3 linked regions of the Homo sapiens genome follow. The protein of the gene in region 3 interacts with the protein of the main gene of each other region in a pairwise test. Each region holds a gene or a part of one and is shown on either strand. Other genes may lie near its edges.

Evidence for each region.
Region 1: the proteins of TSEN54 (region 3) and KPNA5 interact in binary tests that used the Homo sapiens proteins (3 or more experiments, as listed by UniProt).
Region 2: the proteins of TSEN54 (region 3) and LHX4 interact in binary tests that used the Homo sapiens proteins (3 or more experiments, as listed by UniProt).

The regions. Positions count from the first base shown.
Region 1 is NC_000006.12:116,725,980-116,733,293, reverse strand, and holds part of KPNA5 (importin subunit alpha-6), read right to left. Parts: intron 6,800-7,314; coding exon 6,672-6,799; intron 3,732-6,671; coding exon 3,553-3,731; intron 1,159-3,552; coding exon 971-1,158; 3' UTR 1-970. UniProt on the Homo sapiens protein: Functions in nuclear protein import as an adapter protein for nuclear receptor KPNB1. Binds specifically and directly to substrates containing either a simple or bipartite NLS motif.
Region 2 is NC_000001.11:180,268,033-180,275,346, reverse strand, and holds part of LHX4 (LIM/homeobox protein Lhx4), read right to left. Parts: intron 5,695-7,314; exon of another isoform or gene 3,968-5,694; coding exon 3,813-3,967; exon of another isoform or gene 3,513-3,812; coding exon 3,341-3,512; exon of another isoform or gene 1,163-3,340; coding exon 768-1,162; 3' UTR 1-767. UniProt on the Homo sapiens protein: May play a critical role in the development of respiratory control mechanisms and in the normal growth and maturation of the lung. Binds preferentially to methylated DNA.
Region 3 is NC_000017.11:75,511,691-75,519,616, reverse strand, and holds the start of TSEN54 (tRNA-splicing endonuclease subunit Sen54), read right to left. Parts: upstream 3,090-7,926; 5' UTR 3,057-3,089; coding exon 3,001-3,056; intron 2,872-3,000; coding exon 2,707-2,871; intron 2,609-2,706; coding exon 2,545-2,608; intron 2,457-2,544; coding exon 2,373-2,456; intron 2,061-2,372; coding exon 1,962-2,060; intron 623-1,961; coding exon 570-622; intron 1-569. Other genes in the region: CASKIN2 (caskin-2), read left to right, coding at 5,813-5,906.

The DNA.
Region 1 (7,314 bases), on a different chromosome or scaffold from region 3:
AACTTGTACTTGTACTTAAACTTAAACTAGTACTATTATACAGAAAATGAAACTTTTCAATTACTGCTCTGAAAAATCAGAGAAATAATTAGTTATTATTTTAGATATGCAGCACTACTTTAGATTCATGATGACATCTCTGTCATGATGCTCTTTAAAACAATGAGTGAAAAACAATAAAACACTATTTCAAAAATGGTAGCATATTTGGTTGAAATACAAAATATACTAATATACATAGCACTTATATGTTAAAAACAGAAATATTTAAACATTTTATAAAGTAATCTTTTTAATGTGTTCAACATGAAAAACAGCTTCTCCCTTCACAATTGCCACATTTTAATGGATTATCAGTATAATATTTCTTCTGTTTTATAAATAAATTTTATAGGTTTTCTGTTGCAATTTTTTGCAAAGTATAACCTACAGCACAGTGATATGTATAATTTAAGGTAATAAATATTTTCACATTCTAATTTAGCATTTGCATTATTTCATGCTTCTGAAGCTTTTTTGTTTTTATTTCTGCTTCAAGATAGAGGTAGATTTAGTAGAGATTAGATGTGTAAGACTTACTGCCAAAATGCAATTATCAATAGGTTTACTGCTAATGTGCAGTTTCCAAGAATGCTTGAAAAAATTCAGAATTACTAAGTAATGCTTCACCAAAATTCTCCTTTTCAAGCTTAAATTACTAAATAATTGCATATTCAATTATTCACAAATAGATACAAAAATCCAAACAATAGAAGATATAAATACAGGCACAACAACAAAACTAAAACAACAACAAACTACAATGAAAGGTTGCATCTGAATGGAAATTTTTGTTTCATTTTGCTTTCTAAAAGTGCATCAAATTCTCTTTACTGTTCTATGTAAAAAAACAAACATTCTTACATTGGCAACAAAGAGGAGTTACCTGAAGCTACCCTTTTTAGCCATAAATTTTTTTTCCTCCAGTAAGTTAAAGTTGAAATCCATCCATTGGTGCTTCCTGCTGCTGAAATATAAACTGTTGTTGGTTTTCATCCACCTGAGGTACAATGCTGGGGTCATCTTCTTCTACACCAAAGTAATGTTCAATCAGATCAAATGCCTTCTGGTAAATTTCCTGATTTTCATGGCTTTGCAAAAACTCAATTTTATCCAGACCTGTTATACAAAGTATATATATATATATATATATATATATATATATATATATATATATATAAACAAACTGTTACTACAATTTCAGTATATGTTTAAATCAAAATAATAAGTGAACATCATCTATCACCTCACTGGCAACGGGACTATTTTAATCTAACTGTTGCACATACCGATAGCCATCACTTACGATTTATACTTCAAGAATGAGAGTATGTAGCAGTGTCATACGAAGAAGGACCATAGGCCTGGGAGTAAGATCACAGACACCACCCTGCTAGGTGTGTGATCTTGGCCAGGTAAGTTTAGTTCTTCTGTTTCTCAACTGTAAAATGGCAGTTTTAGATTAACTCCACAGGTCCTTTCTAGAGTAATTAACAAAGCCCAAAAAGGGAAAGCAACAAAACAAATTAAATGAAGAAAATAAAACACGCTGAGCCAGAGAGTATCACTATGAAATAAATGTGTAAAATTTCCAAACCCATACAATAAAAAACATATGGCTGTTGTGCGGTTTAAAAGAATTACAATCTACAATTGAAACTGAAAGGCCTCATTTTGAAAAGATGAGAAGAATCTATAGCAATCGATTTTACTGCTTATCAGAAAAAGCTCTACACGTAAGTCTGGGTAGTGCTGAAAATACATTTCATTTAATTACAGATAAACGACTTCAATCAGATTATCACAGAAAAAAAAGCAGCAAAGCAGTCCTATCTATACACAATCACAGAATAGCTCAAACCCTAGTCTGACTCGGGGTCAAAATAATGACTGTAGTAAGACAATATTCTTAAATCAGTGACTAATATCTTGTATTCATGTAATGTCTTATCCAGTGATGTTATATAATTTGAAAGAAAGACAAAGTGATATCATGGGCTTTAAGAATCAAAAATAAAAGTCTGAATCACCCATACAATGTAAGAGGACTTAATACAGAAAAGTGAATATTTAATGCAAATAAAAGAAAATCAATTTAGATTCATGCCTTATCTAAAATAAATTCCATATGATTAAATGTTTTAAGAACCTAATTTTTAAAACTTGGCAAATAAAAAAATTAATTTTCATCAAATCTCTGTGGAGGCAATGACTTTGTAAACTTTGAAAGAATAGAAAATTAGACTGAGTTATTTAAACATAAATGAACATGGTATGTTTTATTAAAATAAAAGAATGTGTTCAATGGATGATCTGAAAAAAAATAGACCGAGGAAAAAGTCATATCAAAATAAACTACTATAAAATAAAATTCAAATTTTTACCAAAAAAAAAAGTCAAATAGATAACCAGACAAAGTACAATAAATATGCAATTTGGATAAGGACACAGACTAACTCATGAAAAATACATACTACTATCTATAGGAAATAAACCAAAAAATGTACATAAAAGCAACTTGGTGTACTATTTTACATCTGCTGAGTCCACAAAATAAACAAAACAAGTATGAGGTTGTAGAATAGATTCATACAATGCCAGTGACACTGTCAGCAACAGGCCTTTGGAAAGCAAAATGAGAAGACATCAAAAGCTTAAAAAGAAGTCAGTGCCCTAAGACTCAGCAACTGTATTCCTGAAAATTTATCCCCAGATATTAATTCCATAAAAGAAATAAACATATACACAGAAAGATGCTTATTTTGGTATACATAAAGTGATAAACTGGGAACAAACTAATGGTCAACAACAGGTTATGGTTAAACTTCCATTCAAATGGCTAAAACTTGACTCAATATGTAGCATTATGGCCAGACATGGTGGCTCATATCTGTAATTCCAGCACTTTGGGAGGTTGAGGTGGCTGGATCACTTGAGGCCAGGAGCTCGAGACCAGTCTAGCCAACATGGAGAGACCCCGTCTCTACTAAAAATACAAAAATCAGCCGGGCATGGTGGCATGCACCTGTAATCCCAGCTACTCAGGAAGCTGAGGCACATGAATTGCTTGAACATGGGAGGTGGAGGTTTCAGTGAGCCAAGACCACACCACCGCACTCCAGCCTGGGAGACGGAGTAAAACTGTGTCTCAAAAAAAAAAAAAAAAAAAATTACATATTTTTATATATATATAGTATATACATAACATTATGTGGCCATTATAATAAAAATTATGTAGAAATGTAAAATTTCTCCAAAATGTTAAAAAGTAGAACATAAAACTATACATACAATACAATTAAGTCAATGTAAAGTATTTGTGCATACAGACAATGTTAAAAAAAGGTAAATAATAAAAATAAATTGTTAGGGTAATAAAATTACGGGTGACATTTTAAAACTTAAAAAAATACATACTGCTTTTACAACAAAAAAATTGTAGGGAACTGGAAGGGGAAAGTATGACAGATATAAGAACTGACTATAATTGCAAATTTTTAACTGATTGCTTACCATATGCTTCTTCAATGAGAGCACAGTATGGATTAATGCCTATTCCATTCTGCTTAGATTCTTGTTCTCCAAGACGTAAAATATTTTCAAGTCCATTTAAAGCCACTTGGACTATTTTGGAGTCCATAACAGTCAAAAGATCACAAAGTGGTTTAATGCAGCCTAAAGCTACCAAATACCTTCAGATTAATATAAAAGAGAAGAAACAGGGAAAAAAAGATTTAAAAAGACTTAAGTACTGTTTGTAACAATGACACAAAAATATTTTTCATAGTGAAATGTTACATAAGCAATTAAGAAAAAGTATTCCTATACAAATGCAAACATTACACACATTTAAATTCTCACATAGGAAACTTAAAATTTTCTTTACTCACCTATTCTCTAATTTAACATAATTAGCAATAAATGGTCTTGCAAAGACTATAAAATACAGACACAAACTGGTACTTCGGCCTGTTTTTCATGGTGCTCATCTGAGCATTAAACGTAGGTTCGAAAGGTTGTTTTTTTTTTTTTTTAAAGGCAAGCCTACACACAGACACACACACACACACACACACACACACACACACACACACACGGAGGTCATATGGGGGTAGACAGAAATGGAAAGAAAGAAGAGACATCTAAATTAAACTTGAGAAAATTTCCCATAAAAACAATCACAGCTAATGTTCTGAAACATATACTGTGTTTCAGAAGGATAGAAGGCCTGTAGGAACAAAACAGGCTCTCTTGTGAATAATGTTCATAAATAATATTCACAAAAAAATTCTTTAATTTCTGAATGCATGTCCTTTTCTAGTTATTGGCTGGTTTTCTGTACTCTATAATGTAAATGAAGTAACTGATTTGTTCACTTGGCAAAAAGTCCATATTAAGTACAAAGGTTAAAAACATACTATGAAGCCAGGCTGTGTGCCTTCAAGTCCCAATTCCACCCCTTATTAGTTGTGTGACCTTGAGCAATTACTCTGTGTCTCAGTTTCCCCATCTTAAAAATGGGAATAATAATAGTACCAACTTCAGAGAGTAGTTGTAAGAACACAATAGACATTTAATAAAAGTTTCTGTCCCTCTTAAAAAAAAAAGATGTATATACCTTCACCAGAGCACTCATTTGCCCTATACTGTACTGTAATTGGTCAAAAATATCTGTTGAATGAATAACTGCCTCATAGTTAAGAGATTACAGGAGATAAAATACATGAAAGTACCAGACACATTGCTGGTGCTCAATAACTGAAATGACTTACTTAGCACAATAACTGGCAATAGTAGGCACTCAACTAGTGGTATGGATGCATAACTTAATCTGAGATCAAGAGGTCTTTTCCCAAATATGCAAACTTAATGAAATGATAAAAGTGGTTAGAAAAATAATTATCTCAGTTTGGATACTTAATCCATACTAATAAATTAAAGCAATAATATACAGAATAGATATAACCACAAAAATTAATTGAAAAAATACAACTATTTGCAGGTGAACAAACTTGCAGCCCAAATAAAATAAAAGTAACATCAACATTAAAAAAATACAAAATAGAACAAAGGAAGGGTCTTCATTTATTACTGCTTGTATCCATGACACAAAGTGGAAATACTGATGAAAGCAAAGAGATAGAATAGAAAATAAAAGGCAGAGACAGATGCTAGCAATATACAGCTATACAAATTTGAGAGAGCAAGATAATACTACAAATGAAGGCAATAAAAGACGACAATTTCACAATAGGTAGATTTCAAAATTATGTGATTTATAAAATAGCACTGTAGTTTGACTTGTTTTATAAATTGAAAAATAAATCAAATATGCATTAGAAAATATTTTCTAAGAAGTCTAGTTTCATGGAGGGATCCTCCGAACAAGACGATTCTGTAGAAGCTTTTAGTAGAGGTGTAAGTGAAACTTTGCTATGGGAGATAAAAAAGAGTGAAAGTACATGATAAAAGATTCAGGAATCAATACTGATAATAAAAATTATGATGATTACAAATAATAACAGTAGCTATTCTTAATTATCTATTAGTTATTAATAATATGTTTAGGCACTGTGCTGACACTTCAAAGACATAAATTTCACTTAACTATCAAGATACAGTCCCTCGGTTTCATCGGAGATTGGTTCCAAGACACCCTTCCTCTCAATACCAAAATCCACAGATGCTCAATTCCTTTATATAAAATGGCATAGTATTTGCATACAACCTATGCATATCTTTCCAAGTATTTGAAATTATCTTTAGATTACTTATAATACCTAAAACAATGTAATTGCTATGATGTTACTAATTGTTGTATTGTGTTTTTAAATTTGCATTATTTTGTAGTGTTGTACTGGCATTTTTTACTGTCTTTTTCTTTTTTAATATTTTTGACCTGCAGGTGGTTGAATCCACAGATGCAAAACCCAAGGATATGGAAGGCTGACTTACACTGCCATAACTATTCATTACTGGAACTCATTTTTTAAAATGAAGAAACTAGATTAGAGGGGTTAAATGACTTTGTCAAGACCACACAACTTTTACTGAAGGAGCAGGATTTGAAATCAGGCTGACTTAAAAGCCCATGCACCTATTATTTACATTGTCAGCAGAATAAATAAATTTAAAAAGCCTAGACTCAAAAAGCTAATATAAAAAAAAGGTAACTAGTATAGAAAAATAAAAGATACTATCCATAGGCAAGGCTAACAATCAATGAGGACCAGAACATCACCATATAAACAATGTCTATTTCAATTTTATTTAAAGTAAGTGGATATTCAAATTTATTAGCCATTTCTATATAATAAAGCTATATTTTTGTGATTAAAAAATATTTAATGCCCATGACAGTGTACTCTGCAAATTAACATAGACCGTTCCCGTTTGGATTTTTTAATCTCTGATTTTTCTTAAGCAGCCTATCAAGGAGAATGATGTTAATTACACGTTAAATGGGGAAAAAAAAATTGTGAATGAGTAACTGATATAATACATGCTGTCATTTCATATTATCAAACTGACTTAGAAATAATATTTTAGTTCCATCAGTAAATTAAAATATGTTTTATTTCAACTTTTGTCTCATTTACATGTAAAAAACAATTAAGAAGTTTATATCATACCTTATTTGCTCTGGAGTACCTCCTGATGTTGCATTAGTTATAGCCCAAGCTGCTTCTTTTCTGGTACGAAACTCTGCTTTCTGAAGAATCTCAATCAAAACAGGAAAAATATTTGCATCTATAACAGCCTGAGAGGGGGAAAAATATATAATCAGTACAAATACTGTTTCTAAAATATTACCAGTAAAAAAAATCTTGAAACTCAATGGCTTCAAAATGTCAAGGTTTTTGGAACCTTGACATTAAAATAAATTTTTAATTTCTATTCTGTCAGCAAACTTTTCAAATATTTTTCTTTTTACATAGGAAATTAGCTTTTTAAAGACTGGAGAATAGCAAAATATAAATTTTAGAGATGATAAAGCACAAGCCATGTGACTGATCAAAATGGATAAGTAATCACTGACACAAGAAGCTTGATAGAACCCTAATAAATCATTAAAAGCTTTGAGAGGAAGATTATTGCATAACTTATTTAAAACTAATGCAAAAAAATATCTTTCTAAAGACAAACCATTATGTGTCAGGCACTGTGCTAGACACACACACACACACACACACTTGATGTTCTTCACTAGAATACTACAAGTAAATGTTATTATTTTAGAGGAGGAAAGCCCATGTTCTTTAAAATACTTTTTCG
Region 2 (7,314 bases), on a different chromosome or scaffold from region 3:
CACTGTGCACCAAGGGGACGACTCAGGCAATCTGCAGCGGTGGTCCAGGGCTACTCAGCTCAGCCTCAGTCACCTGCAATGAAAACCACCTCTTGCCATCAGAGTCAATGATATAGATGGGACACTTAAAAACCAAAACAGGTTCATATTCTCTGGTTTGTAGGAAAGAATTCATATCTTCACAGCAAAAATAAAAAAGGAGGGGGCATGTTTTTAATATCAAACTGGCCATCAAAGTGTTCACTGACCTTTAATAACTGATCTTTTCATTTTGAAATATAGGGTTCAATAAGGATGGTCCAGAAATCACTTTTATTTTACTCAAGGGCTGTGAGGCCTCTACCTTAGGAGTCTCAGTTCTGGTGAGAGCAGTGTTTTGGGAGGCATTGTGTGAGACACACCAGTTGGAGCAAAGTTCCCAAAGGCCAAGGGGGCCTATCACAGTCACCTTGTGCTACCAAAGCACTGAGCAGCCAAGCCCCTAAGCAGAACAGCAGGGGAGAGACCCAACAAGCCAGTGTCCCTAGAGCTCTAGGCCATTACCCCCTGTGCTGTGTTCTGAGATGAGTCTGCTCTCCCACTGCTTCCCCAGGGAAACAATGCCCTAGTGTGGTCTCACAGCCTTCTAGGAATCAGCGGAGGACTTCCATTGAAAATAATGGAAATTCACATTGGCGTACTTTCGATCCTTAAAAGGCAAGTCTCTTTTGATCCTTGAAGATATTCTCTCAAGCCAGGGGGGCAGGTAGGGTGGGGAGGAGAGAAGTTTAAAAAGGAGGATGATCCATTTCATCGAGCCAAGAGCCTGGGCTAGTTGGAAAGTCGGGATAGCCTACACTGCTTCCTGTGGAGATGTCAGAGGTGGGTCCCCCAGCCATGGCTCTCAGCGTCTGGCTTACTCCCTGCCCTGCATGCGCAATGATGCCCAAATTACTGTCCACCGTGTAATCCAGCCCATTGAGCAAAGGAGCGTGGGATGGCAGGGACGATATGGAGGATGGAGACTGGGGGATTCCATAGGGGCTCCCATCCCTCAAGTCCTGATAGGATTGTCCTGTCCCGTCCATGGAGAAGCTCCCATTCATTAACTGTCCGCCTGTAACGTCCCCCACGTTGCCATAAATCCTATTGGTGTGGCCAAGTTCTGAGAGAATTTGATCCTCTGTGGACAAAAGAACGGAGATTTATTGTCAGCTGCCAGGACTCTGATGGTCCCCTGCTCTTCACAACCTAGGAACACACATGACCAGGAAAGATGCCCAAGGATGGCAGCTGCCTTGCAGCCAAGCATGGGTCAGACACACCAATATGGCAGCCTGATATCCAGAGGCCAACCCAGGCCAAGGAGAAAAACAAGAAACACCTGCAAAGACTAAATTCCCAGGTCCCAGAAGGATGGACAAATGTTTGGTGAGCTCGTTGGTCCCTTGTGGCTCGTGTACTAATACTCTGGCTACACTGAGGAGGATGAATGCCTAAGGCTGGGTGGGTCAGATGTCTCCACATCACAAATGGAAACTACATGCTGACAACATTTACCCTGAAAGCTTTCAAGCTGAGAAAGGGCTTGGTTTAGTTGATTGGGAAGCAAGCAGGCCCATATGGTCAGGGAAGCTGAGGACCACTCTTAGACATCTGTACAAAATCCTTCTGGTCTATCTGGAAGAGAGGTTCAATATCAAAGGACTTGGTTTCTGTCTGTATTCAATAAGCTCTTCACTGGGGACAAAGAATTGACTTGATTAAGGCAAATGAACCTTCTTTTTTCTTAAAGAATTTCATTAAGGGGATCTAATGGAATCTTTGCCACTTGAAAGAATTTCTCTCTCCAACAGAGGTGAGCAGTTTTAGTCTTTGAGAAATTATTCCCAGAGAAACCAATGATAGGTCAGCCCAGGGACCCACCTGCACCCAACAGAAATGAGCTTAACAATCCAGTATGTTCTAGGTGTTGACTTCAACAGCCCAGATGAGATTGACTTTCCCAATCCTGCCAAGAAGCCTAAAAGGTGAGTATTAGTCCCATGAGCTGTCCCCAAGGCCTCACGGGCCCTGTGTTCTCAGAGGAGGCTGCCCTCTAGGGCTCAGCTGACCTCTGGGCTGAACTAGAGTCCTCCCAGGGCATCGTTGTCCTGGCAGGCAACTTGTTCCATCCTCTGTCCCACAAACTTCCTTTTCTATTTCCACCTGGGCCTCTGCACCAATCCCTAAATAAGGCCTCCCCAGACTAGACTTCAACACCCCATCCCTTCTGAGGCCTGCCCCCCATTCCCCTTATGAAAAAACATGGTGGGGGGAGCTCATGCTCTTTAAAGGGAGCAGGAAGATGAAGGCTCCACTCCATTGTCAAATGGCCATGAGTTAGCCTTTTCCCTATACCTGTCATCCCAAATGACCAGGGCCCTCTGCGGGAGCCACACGCTCCCTGTGGGAACGATCATGCCTTCCAGGTATACAAATGTGCCAGGCTTTCCCCAAGCACATCCACAGTTGGTTGTGTTCATTGATCCCCACAACGCAGTGAGATGGGCAAAGATATGGTATTCCTCTTGGGAATACTGGGGCTCAAGAGAAGTGAATCGATTTGACAGAGCTGCACTGGAAACCAGGTCTCTGATCGCCAGTTGAGTACTCTTCCCTTTCCCCCTCCGCAGAAGACCTTCCACATTTGAGAACTCAGTACCTGAGAACAGTTATGATTCTTTGCAAACAACCTGAGGATTCATAACATGCAGTAATTTACAATTTTGCTGATGCATGAATTTGAATATAGTGCATGCTGCAAAGCTTGTGTGCAGGGGACAGAATGAAGTGAGTGGTGGGGAAAGGGATTTCGGAAGTGAAGCCAGTTCCCCATCTCACATGCACTCACAGTACTGATTTCCCAGGAAAAAACCTGTGGAGCATGACCTCCCCACCACCAGGACTGGAGGAAGGGGTGGCTCTAGGGGACTATGGGAGTAGGCCAGTGTCCCAGCAAAGGGGACAAAGATGGGAGAGGGGCTAGGGGCACAAGGCTGGAACCCAGTCATCTGTTCATAGCTGTGTGGGCTGATGAGGGAGGCCCCAGTCAGCAGGAGGGGAGGGGAGACCTTGGGGCCACAGGACGGGGCCTGGCCCATCCCAGCTTCCAGACCTCAGCAATCTTGTTTCCTACTCCTGTCCCATGGTAAAGGGCCACTACCATTTCCCCCACCCTTCACTGCAAGTCTTAAGGAAAAGCCTGTGTTCAGGAGGGAGTTGCCAAGGCCTCAAGAAAGATCCCTCCTGAGTGCCAGGGATTACAGATTCCCAGGGGACTTTCCTAAGGCCTCGGCCTGGCCCCTCCAGCCCTGCTCACCTCGGAAGCTCAGCTCACTGTCACTAACCCCACAGTCCTCTGCAGAGCTCTCCTTCTCCTGCTTGCTGCTGCCCCGGCTCCTCTTGACGCTCTTATAGAACTGCCCCCAGCGGTGCCGCCCTGCATCCTTCTTCAGGCGTTTCTCTTTGGCCCTTCTGTTCTGAAACCAAACCTGCCACACAAGCACAAGGGACATACTCAGGGGGCGTCCACCACAAACCCAAAGCCCCCAGGACCCCCTAGGCGGGCGGCTGGAAGCAGACTGAAGCCTGAATGGAGCACAGGTCTGGGAGTGCGATGCGCCCCACCCCCTCTCCCCAGGTGGGCCTCAGAACTCTGTCTTCAGTTCTGGCAAAAGCCCTGGGGTCAAGCCCTGAGCCCAACCACCCGTGAGCTGATGTCACTCAGGATACCTTCCACCCCTGTCCCGGGCCTGGGATCCCCGGAGGGCACAGGAGTGCTGGCATCTCACCTGTACGACCCTCATGTCCAGGCCTGTCTCTGAGGACAGCTGCTCCCTCACGTGCCGGGCAGGCTTGGGGGAGTTCTTGTATGCATTCTTTAATGTCTCCAGCTGCTTGGCTGTGATGGTGGTCCGGGGCCGCTTAGCTCCAGCCTCTGAGTCATCTGCAAGGAAAAACCACTGCTTACTGGCTTCGGCCTATCTGCAGCAGCTGCGCCTCCTCCCACACCCTCCCTTCCATCCTTTCTGCACCTAAGCCTGCCTGCTGTAGGCAGGACAGCGCGAGGCACAGGGGACATCAGAGTGGAGAGGTCCCCACTCTCATGGCACTGACTCCTGCACCACGGGCCTTCCCAAGCCACTGAAAAGTGAGGACAGCAGTCCTTTCTCTGCTCAGCTCCCTGCCTCAACCCTCCCCTGCCAGCCCAGCTGCACAGAAGTCTCATCAGATTGAATGTACCCAATTCCACACGTCCCTGTCATGACAAACACTCTGCTCACACATCCTCATGAGTTCTTGCCAGAGCTGTGAAGGTGAACAGCCAGGTTGAAGTCATGTTCAAAGTCGCCCCAGATGCCCTCCCCTCTGTCTCATCAGGAGTCTCCCATTTCCCCACAGCCATGTCACCTTTGCCCTGGCGTCGCTGGGCTCACAGCCAGGGGTGAGCTTGCACACCCAACAGTGTCTAAGCAGGTTTCTAAACTATAGGTCAGAACCCACTCGTGGGCTGTAAAGTCACCTTAGTGGATCAAAACTAAAACAGGAAATCAGATGAAGAGAATGGGATGGAATGGCAAGATCATTTCATTAAACTTTAGTTTTTATTGTATAAATATGTGTACTGAGATGAAATGTAAAATGAGTTTTACTGTGGATTGTAGTCAAAATTTTTTGAGAAAACTAGTCTAAGGAATGTTCTGGGCAACACACTGACTGATCAACACAAAGTCCTAGACAGATTTTGAGTGAACAAGCTCAAGTTCCTGTTAGTTAAAGTCTGGTTTGTTCCATTCAAAGTCAGGTACAGAGAGAGGCGCGTGCGTGTGTTCGGAAGCACAGGTGAATGTAAAGGTTTGTTTCCTCTCCCAGCACTTAGGCATACTGCCCTTTTCTCCACAGTGCCCCTGGAGGACACACGGAATAAAGTCAGCAGCTGGCCTGGGCAGCTCTGCTCTCTGTGCTTGCTCACCTGTGTGCCCCAGAAGGTGTCTCTGTGACATTCCTGACTTCCTCTCTGTCTTTTCTCCTTTCTTTCCATTCAAGAAAACCCTCTCTTAGAAACAATAGTAGCCAACATGTGTTAGCACCTACCATGTGCTGGTGTTGACTAAGGACTTTATATGCATTCGGTCCTCACAATCTACAAGGCTCTCCCTGGAGTCAGCAGACCTGGCTTCAGTGTTCTTGATGAGTGAGTGACTTGGGCCAGTAACTCACTTCCCCCTTGGAAGTCCAGAGGGCAACACGGCCTGCCCTGATCTTGGGAGGCACTAGAGGAATGAAGCAGCTGTGCAGCCAGGACATGTGTGTACACAGTGAGGGGGGACACACCCGTGCCTTCCCTTCTCCTCGGGCTGTTTTCTTCTCTCACGTGGCCACTGTCATCCCGGAACTACTGTGGCCCAACTCCCTCCCTGAAGCCCTGAACCCGAAGGGTAGGGATTCCGGAGCCCCTGCCACAGAGACTACACTACTTAGAGAGTCATTCCAAAAGACAAAGGGGAACCTCCAAAATGCCTTCCTTTTCATTCTGAGGAGTCTGTCCCTTCTGTGCATATTTATAGTCTACACGGGAGTGTCTGATGCAACTTTGAATTATGCAAATGGGAAATAGTGCACTTGTGTACAATCTTTATATTAAAAAATGTGAAATAATGCAATCACCAAAAATGTTTTAATTTCTCGAGAATCACTTAATTTCAAAATAGCTTGGCCTACGGAATTATAAATTCTTTTCACCACAGCCAGATGGTAGCGCCACTGGGATAGACCCGTCATCCTGGTTGGTGGCCCGCTGGTTCGGCACTGCTACACACACAGGATTTTCTTCTTGCAATGATGGGGACTAATATGCTGTTATTTTAACATTCACTGTTATTATAATTTAAAATCTTTTTTATATCCCATAACAATGTCATCCAAGTATTCATTAAGTAGCAGTGGCAGTGCTCGTGCTGAAAAATGTACCCAAAAATCAATAACTTTGGTACGGAAGTTAAATGTGACAAAACGCTATGAGGAAGGCCAAGGGAGCCCATGATACCCTGGGCTGTTAATTTAGGAGAGAGCGTTCTGCAAGGTATTCAAGATAATGCTGAGAAAATAAAAAGTAGCATTAAGGCAAAGATACACTTCACTGGTTATGGATTTATGTGCTCTCAGAATATACCACCCCCCCCCCCACACACTCTACATTAATTCCTACAGGAAAATTAGTCTTAAAATATGTTAGTTTTGAATGATGCAGGGTCTCCTAGAACTTGTCCCTGGCATAAAACGCAACCTCATTATATTGAAAATGCAAATATCCAGGGAGACGGAACAAGTGAACAAAATCATTCACACTAAGGTGCAAGTAACTGCTCTGAGATCCTTTGTTTAGCTAATGGGAGGGAACTGTAAGCCTGCAGGAGGGCTGAGAGTAGCAAGGAGGAATTAAAACAACCTGAAAAGACAGCCAGGCATTCTGCAGTGGACAGAACTCCCCGCTGCTCCAAGGATCACCGATTGCCCAGGACAGAGGAGCCCTGCCTTGCTCACAGCCAGGGTGGGGTCAGGAAAGGACCCGGGGAACAGGCCAGAAATACTGTGTAACATTCCGCTGCTTTAAAACCTCAAGCACACCTCACCTCCCTGTTTGCACTTCTCCTCCACGTCAGTCTCTTATTTCACATCCCATTTCACAAGCCTCATCCTATTTAAACCTCAGGAAAACAGCCCTACGTGGCAGATGCTATGATCCTCCATAGACAGCTGAGAAGCCGAGGGTCAGCCAGTTCTACAACTTGCCAGGAGATCTCCCTGTGTGGGGGGATGCCCAGCCAGCTTCTGACAGCAAGTCCGGCATCTTCCATCATCCTGCAGAGGTCTGCTGTGGTGCAAATATTCCTCGATAAAACTGTGAGCACCACAATGTCATTCCCACCTCCCCAGCCAGATTCTGACCAATCTACATCTGTTTCTCTTGTCTCTTGAACCACCCACAACATCAGGAGATGCTGAGCTGAGAGTGCTCAGAGTCCAAATGAGGCCTCTGATGAGAACCAGCTGCAGGCCGGGGAGGTCGTGCCATCTTAGTATCTCTGATGAACGGCACTAGACTTCCAAAGGTGTCTTGGTATCTCTGAGTCCATCTGCTGTGATGGTTCATCCCTGACAAGTTGCCCTAATCTCCCATGACATCACAATTGACTTCAAGGCAATAGCATGGAGTGAGTTTTAAGAAACCAGAGCAGATTAGTACATTGCAGGCAAAGAGCCTTGGGATGGGTTTGCAGAGGCCCCAGGTCT
Region 3 (7,926 bases):
CACTACAGCCTGGGCGACAGAGTGAGACTCCGTCTCAAAAAGAAAAGAAAAGATGTGCCTGCTTTAGAGCTTTTGTGACATACTGTAACTGCAAAAGCTGTACCCGTTTCCACTCCAAGTCTGAAGGTCTCTGCCTTTTACCAATGCTGGATTACTAAGGTGATGAAGGAAAAAACATTTAACCTGGCATGAAAAATGTGAAACCCTACTAATGGTAAATTCTTCACCCAGTCCTTCATTTAAGCATACACTCTACATACCTGCCTGCGCACCTACTAAGTGCCAGGCACTGTTCCAATCCTGCCTCTCAGTGCTCACACACACTCAGCTGCAGGCGCAGGTCATCTGAAGATGCGGCTCGAGTTCATAAACCAGAATAAAACAAAATGACCTGGATTCCTCCCAACCTGCCTCTCTCAGAACGCTTCCAGCAGGCGCCCCCAGTCTGTGCCCAAGGAACTGCACTCCAGCCAAGGGTTCCAGGTAAGGAGAGGCCATTTTCTACCTTAGACTAGTCAGCCAGGTCCCAGGACTAGAATATATGGAAGGGGAACAGGAAGGGGATTTACCTTGGTTGGAATCGTCGAACCACATAACCCAACCTCTTCAGGTGGCTGAAGACCTCAAAAGAAAAAAAAAAAATGAAAGCTCAGATGGCCACTCTGGAAAACACCAAATGGTTTCTCCAGACACAGGCCATCCCCACAGCCCTCTCTGCCCCTCCTGTACACCCCCAGATTCTAAACCCTGTGATTAAGGTTGGACCATGCTTCATTACGAACACCATCCCTAAAGATCTCAGGCTCTGAATTCCTGTCCTCCCACTTACCTTACTCGGCACAAATGACATTTAGCCAAATCCAAAAAAACTGATAGCCATGAAACCAGAAAACCACCACGCCCTGAAATACTTGAGTATTTTGATACAAAGCTCATAGGAGTGAAGCTGCCGATCACCATGTGAACAAAATGATGGCAGGTGGTGGGCATCTCTCCAGCCCCACACCTCCACAGATGCCGGTGGGAAGTTTCTGGTAGGGAGCCACATATTCAACCTTGTGTCCCTGCATTCATATCAGAGGAACATAGATAAGAATGTCCCCCATCCTGCTTGATCTCAGCAGGCTTTAGCACAGCTAACCACTTCCTCCTTGAAAGACCTTCTTTTGGCTTCTGTGATGCGACTTTGGTTTTTCTCCTGCATCACCAGACACTCCTCGGTCTGTTTCTGCTTCTTATCTGCCCCCTAACCTACACAGAGAGCCCCAGGGCTCAGACCCAGCCCTCTACTCTGATGGCACTCCCATACAGCCCAGTAGTTTAAATACCATCCATGTGCTCATGGCACCCATATTTACATCTAGCCTTGACCTCTCCTCACACTCCAGACTTGGATTCCAATTGTCTGTCTGCTTTACACTCACTTGGATGTCCAAGAAGCTCCTCAAAATTAACTTATCTGACACAGTTCTTTCGACTGGTCTTGTCCTCCCAAATCTGCTCCTCTTCATTCTTCCCACTCAGAAAATGACAGCACCTTCATCCACTGGTGCATGCCCAAATCATGGGCGGTAATCCTGGGTTCTTCTCTCTCCTTAATCCTGACATCCAATCCATTGGCAGTCCTATCCATTCTTTCTCCAAAATATTTCTGAGATTCATCTATTTTTCACTCACTGCAACTCTACCCACCCCCAACCTGCGACAAGCCCCTAGCTTCTCTCACCTGAATGAACAGCCCAGTCTCTTTGGATTCTCTTCCCCCACCTTATCTTCTGACAGCACTGGGGTCTATGTGAAGCCAACAGGCCACCACCACAATGTAAGCCTCGTGACAGCATAGCCCTCGTCTGCCCTGCAGCCCCAGCATGTGACACTGTGCCTGGCACCTTATGGGTACTTGTCAATACTCATTGATTCAGTGGATGGGTGGCTCCCGGAGGCGGGGTGGTGGCAGATACCTGGTACTGCAGGAAGGTCACAGTGTGGTCGGTCAGCAGCAGCTGGTAAGCTTCCTGGATAGACAGTGGCAGGTCTTGGTGGAAGAGGTGGATGGAGCCCTGGAAGTGGGGCCAACAGCTCAGCTTATGAGCCCTCACTACAGTGCCACAGAGGAATGGGGCAACTTCCCAGCTCTGATACCTCCCCCTCCCCCTCTCAGCAGCGCATCAAGAATGTGGCCAACCAGGAAAGTGGGGCAGCATCACTAATGTGGACTGGAATCCCTGCTCCCTGCAACGTACCACCTCCTGCTTTAGAAGTTTGGTTATCAGTTCTCTAAAGACCGGGTTGTGTGTGCTTTTTCTCCGATAAAACGTGTCCTTCCCGTTCTTTGGTCCCAACTCCTTCCCCACCTCCCGGGCCCCACTTACACACTCCAGAAGATACAAGGCCTCTTCCGGGTGAAGGCGCTGCCGGCCCTGCTCTGAGAAGCCCATGGTCTGCCAGAATTTGCCCTGTGTGGGGCCCAGAGCAAGTGTCACAAGGGAGGGAGGGCAGGGAGGGCAGGGAGGGCGGTCCCCGGTCCCCGAGCCCGCCGCTCACCGCGGGAGACTTCAACTCCACGAAGCCCTCTTCTGGCCTCCACTCGGCAGCCACCAAGCTGCCCCTGGCGAGGAGTGGGGAGGGGTCTGCGTCAGTCCATTCCGGAGACCCCGCGGCCCGCCTCGCCCCCGCTTCCCTTACCCCTGGGCCCGCCCCTCTCACAGGCGCTCCACGCGCTGCTCTGCCAGCAGCTGCCAGAGCTCTTCCCGGCACCGGCGCAGCCGCTCGGCCTGAGCTGCCGAGCCGTCGGGCAGAAAGTCCTTGGGGCCATGCGAGCGCTGGGGCAGCTTCTGCGACCGCGAGCGGGCGGCGAAGAGCTCCCGGGCGCTGGGGGAGAAGGGGACGCGGGGTCAGCGCCGCGCATCGGGGGCCGCCTGGCCGGGTCCCGGGCGCCGGTTTCCCTACCCGCGCTGGCCCCGCGCCCCCGACACCCACTCCGGCCGGGCCGCGCCGCACCTGAGCACGCGCCCCGCGGGAACCTCCACGGCCGCGGGCTCGGGCTCGGGCTCCATCCCGCCGCCGCCTGCCGCTGCGCGCGCCGCCACGCCCCGCCCACCGCCGGAGCTCCGCGCTGCCCTAGTGCCCGCCGATCCGCAATGCCGCGGCAGCCCCGCCCCCTGCACCGCCCCAGCCCGCTCTGCGCCCTCCTGATTGTCCCCGGTCCTAGCGCCCGCCCGGAAGCGCACCCCGACGCCGGGTCTGGGAGCTCAGCCCGCAGGTTGCTGGAGATGCAGAAGGCCCCTCTTTTGCCCCTAGCCCTCCTCGGGGCTTCTCTCCAGTAAAGCCTGAGGAGCCGGCGTCTGGAGTGCAGTGCGAATGGTCACACTTGTGACCGCCCCTCTGCAGCCTCGCGCTGCTTAGTCCCCACCGCCCGGGCTGGGCAAGGAGGGCAGAAGGGCTCAGGGAAGGACGAGCGGAGGGTGTGCAAATTCCGACTTTGCAGGCCGAAGGCCACCCGGGAACTGTCAGGAGCGGTCCGGGGAGGTTCGCCATTCCTTCGGTGTCTTCCGTCCGGTCCCTACGGCTGGGCTCCGAAGCCAGGTTTCGAGGGCCGGGGGCGGGAGGCGCTGTCCGGCCCACGACGGTGCTGAAGCGCCACCTCCGCCCGGCACGAGCGCCTCCTCGAGGCTGGGGTCCCCGCACTGGTGCCGTCCGCTAGGTGGTGCCATTGCCCGGCCGGCGGCTGCGGGTGGGCGACGCCGGCCGCAGACGGGGGGTACTGCAAGTGGGGTCCCGCGTCTTGGTTGCCAACCCCCTTCACATTACGTCTTCTCTCCCACCAGTCAGACCCGGGGTGTCTAGCCCTTGGGTCTAAGTCCAGAGCCCCAGGTCACCTCTGCCCCCGCGCCCCCCGCCCCTCCGTTTCACCTGGGCGCATGCGCTGATCCGGTCAGCGCCCCCGGTCCGGGCGGGCACGAGTTGGGGCGGGATCTGGCGCGGATGGGGGCGGAGCCGCCGGTGCTGACTGACAGCCTGACTGCGCGGCCGGGACGGTCCCTCCGTTCCCGATCCGGCGGGAGGGAGGGGGGAGGGGCGGGATTTCCTGCGGGAGGCGCCGAGCCGGCCTTGGAAAAGGAGAAGGAGAAAGGGGGGCAGGGGGGAGTGGGAGCCACCGTCCTGAGTGCCAGGGACCGAGCAGGGCCAGCCGGACCCCGGCGGGCGGCCGGGAGAGGTGAGGCTGCGGGGCCCGCGCTGGGGGTCAGCGCCCCTGGGGGCGGGCGCAAACTAACTTTTCTTGCGGGGTCGGCGGGCACCTCCATCTCCCCGCTCCTTCCGTCCTCCTCGCGCCCCTTTTTCCATCCTCCGCGTTTATACCTCGGGCGCTTGGCCCGCCCGGCTTCTCCCGCCGCTTTGTTCCCCGGTGGGCCTGGGCTGGGCTGGGCTGGGCTGGGGGGTTGCGAGGCGCTGGAGGGACATTCCGGGGGGCGGGGGAGCCAGCCCGACCCCAGGCACTGCCAAGGGCGCCCTCCGCCCGTGTCGGCCGCGGGCTCCGCGTGGGAGTGCCCCTGGGTTGGGCTTGGGACGTTTGGGGAGTGAGGGGTTCCCGGCCAGGGCCCCAGGCCTGCGCGGATCTCATGCCACAAGACTCTGGCAGTAAATTCGCTGCCACCGAGAAACTGACGTAAGCTTCTCTGCGGTGGAGTCCAGGGTCTGGGCTTCAGGTTCAGGCTTGGGGGGCTTGGGAGCCCCGTTTGTCAGCAGTGCCCCAGCTCTCTCTGTTCTCTGCCCAGCTGCTCCTCCACCCGACACAAGGGGCGAGGGCGGGTCAGCAACAGGTGCTGTGCAGCTTCCCTCTCTAGCAGGCAGAGCCCCCAGAAATGGGGGGCCAGAAGCACTTCATGCTCTCCGTTCACAAAGAGTCCTAGGACTAGGGCATCCAGCCATTAAAGCGAAGCCTTGAAGCCTCCGTAGGGAGGAATCTGGGGGCTGGTGCCTTTGACAGGGAGTGACCCCTGCCCGCCTGCCTGTGCCTGACCCTCCCGGCCCCACCTCCTGGCCCGCCAGTTGTCTGTGGGTGTCGGAGCCTCGGGCTGTGGAGAACAGGCTGCTGGCCCGGCCTGCCCCAGTATGTCATGCTGCCAGGGCCCCTCCTGCCCAAGGTTGAGGTACTGCCAGGTGCCCTGGGGCCCCAGTGACTCAGCCTCCCCCTCCCAGAATGCCACCTCCCCCCCACCAATACTCCTCTCATGCATAGCAGCTTCCTCCCCACTTTCAGTGGCTCAGCATCACCATCGACTCCGAGGGGAGCCAGGGTGGCTTGGGGGCTCCCTGGAGGTCTTGTCCTGCTCATCCTCTGCACTCCACTTCTGGGACCCTTGCAGGCTGTGGCCCAGCATTCGACAGAGGCCCCGTGCTTTTTCCAGAGCCCTGAGACCAGTGCACCGCTGCTGCCTGAGGCCCAAGGGAATGCTGGCTGCTCTCTGGGTGGGCACTGGTGTTCCACAGCCAAGCCGGGAAGATTGGTGTGCCCAGTCCCAGCCCATCCTGGAGCTGTCGGAAGCCACAAGCTGATATCCATCCAGATTTCCATGTAGCCTTCACCCCCTCAAAGATTAGCTTTCCTTCGTGTGGTGGCAGTTCACGGAGCACCTTTGGGAGTATCCCTCAGTACCTGACGAGGAGCCCACTGCCTGGGACACCTGACTTGCTCCCCCGGAACCGGGAGCCCTCCAAGGGGCTGTGGCATGGCGCCCTGACGCCCCAGCTTGGACCCGTTGCCTGCCTTTGCCCTGGACTCCTGAGTGTAGAGCTCAGCCCAGGAGCCAGTATGGGTCGTGAACAGGACCTGATCCTCGCCGTCAAGAATGGAGATGTGACCGGTGTGCAGAAACTGGTGGCGAAGGTCAAGGCCACAAAGACAAGTGAGTACCGGGTGGGACGAGCATCCCGCTGAGGCCGAGCGCTCAGTTCACAGAGGCTTGGTGGGTGGGGGTGGGTCACTGTGATCTGCATATTTGAGGAGGGTGGACTGTCTTGTTCTCAGTAAGAAGTGCCTCTGTGTGAGAGAGCCAGAGAGAAAGTTGGGTCCCCCTTGCTGTGTGTCCTTAGGCAAGTCACTTAACCTCTCTGGGCTGCAGTTTCCTGGCCTGCAAAATTAGAGGGTTGAAGTACGTTCATTCACATTGTTATTGAGTGCCTATAGCTTGTCACCCAGGCTGGAGTACAGTGGCAGGATCTCGGCTCACGGGAACCTCCGCCTTCTGGGTTCAAGCCATTCTCCTGCCTCAGCCTCCCTAGTAGCTGGGATTACAGGTGTGTGCCACCATGCCCGGCTAATTTTTTTTTATATTTTTGGTAGAGATGGGGGTTTCACCATGTTGACCAGACTGGTCTCGAACTCCAGACCTCAAGTGATCCACCCACCTAGGTAGGCCTCCTAGTACTAGGATTACAGGCGTGAGTCACTGTGCCTGGCTCAGGCTCTGTTCTAAGCACTGGATCATAGTAGTGAACAAAACAGACCCAAATTCCTGTCTTCGTGGAGTTGCCTTCTAGCAGATGGTCTTTCTGATGTGTTCTTTGGAGCCATGAGATTTCTGACAGTGGGTTAGAGAAGACTGAATAGATAGAACTTCATCCCTACCCCCAACCTCAAACGCACACATTTCAACCAGAGCACCTCTATGTTCGTGTCTTAAGAGGATATCTATAAGATAGCTGTTTTTTTTTTTTGAGACGGAGTCTTGCTTTCTCACCCGGCCTGGAGTGCAGTGGCATGATCTCAGCGCACTGCAGCCTCTGCCTCCCGGGTTCAAGCTATTCTTCTGCCTCAGCCTCCCGAGTAGCTGGGATTACAGGTGCCTGACACAACGCCTGGCTAATTTTTACTAGAGACGGGGTTTCACCATCTAGGTCAGGCTGGTCTCGAACTCCTGACCTCAGGTGATCCACCCGCTTCAGCCTCCCAAAGTGCTAGGATTGCAGGCATGAGCCACCGCACCAGGCCACGAGATAGCTTTTAAAAAGGGAATTCTACTGCTTAAAAAAAGTTCAACACTCTCTAACAAGTTGCTAAAGTTTCTCTTCCCCTGACATGTGTGTCCTGGTGGGGTGTGGCCAGAGCTCATTTACTGGAGATTTTCACCTAGCCTCGAGACCTGACCGGGCTGTGGGGGATCCATGCACAAGCGGCCACACCTGAGCCCCATGTCTTGGGTACCTCTGTGGTGCGACCCCCCACAGGGAGAATAGACCTCTGGGCTTCAGGGAGGGCTCTCTGGGCTGTCCCAGGAGGCCGCTGGACTTGTCACCTTGAGATCCCAGATCAGCATAGGCAGGAGGTGGTTCCTGCCACCAGACTGAGGCAGGAGGAGTTCCCTGGATGGGAAGGTCTCCTCTGGAGTTCAGGGGCTCTAGCCCCAAGATACACCTCGGTCCTGTGCACAGGAAGGAGTCCCCCAGGCTACCTGAACACCTGGGGTATGGGTGCCAGAGGAAGGGCCTTAACCTCATGCATCCACTAGCACACTGGGGCAGGAGACGCAGGGCCTGGAGAGGTGGAGCTGTGGGGTGGTCTCTGTGCCTAGGGAAGTGGACACAGGGTGGGTGCCACTGGGGAGGTGCTAAGGAGGTCCCAGGGGAGGGCCCTAAGGTCCAGCAGTGCAGCCACTCCCCTCTTCTGTCACCTCTGTGTTGTTTTTGGCAACCTGCCCAGTGGGGCCTTGGTCAAGCTGCTGCTGGCCTCACCGCTCTGGGTCCTCAAAGTGAGGCCCTCAGGAGGGCAGGCGGGAGGGGTTTGGAGGCCAGTGGCGGGAACTGCAGAGCTGGGCTCTTAGGCTCCGAGAAGTTCCCTTGTGCCCAGTGGGAAGCGTCTGTGGGGAAGGAGGTCCCTTCCCTCAGTCCCAAAGTGGAGAATTCACCCTGCGCAGGCTGTAGGCTCAG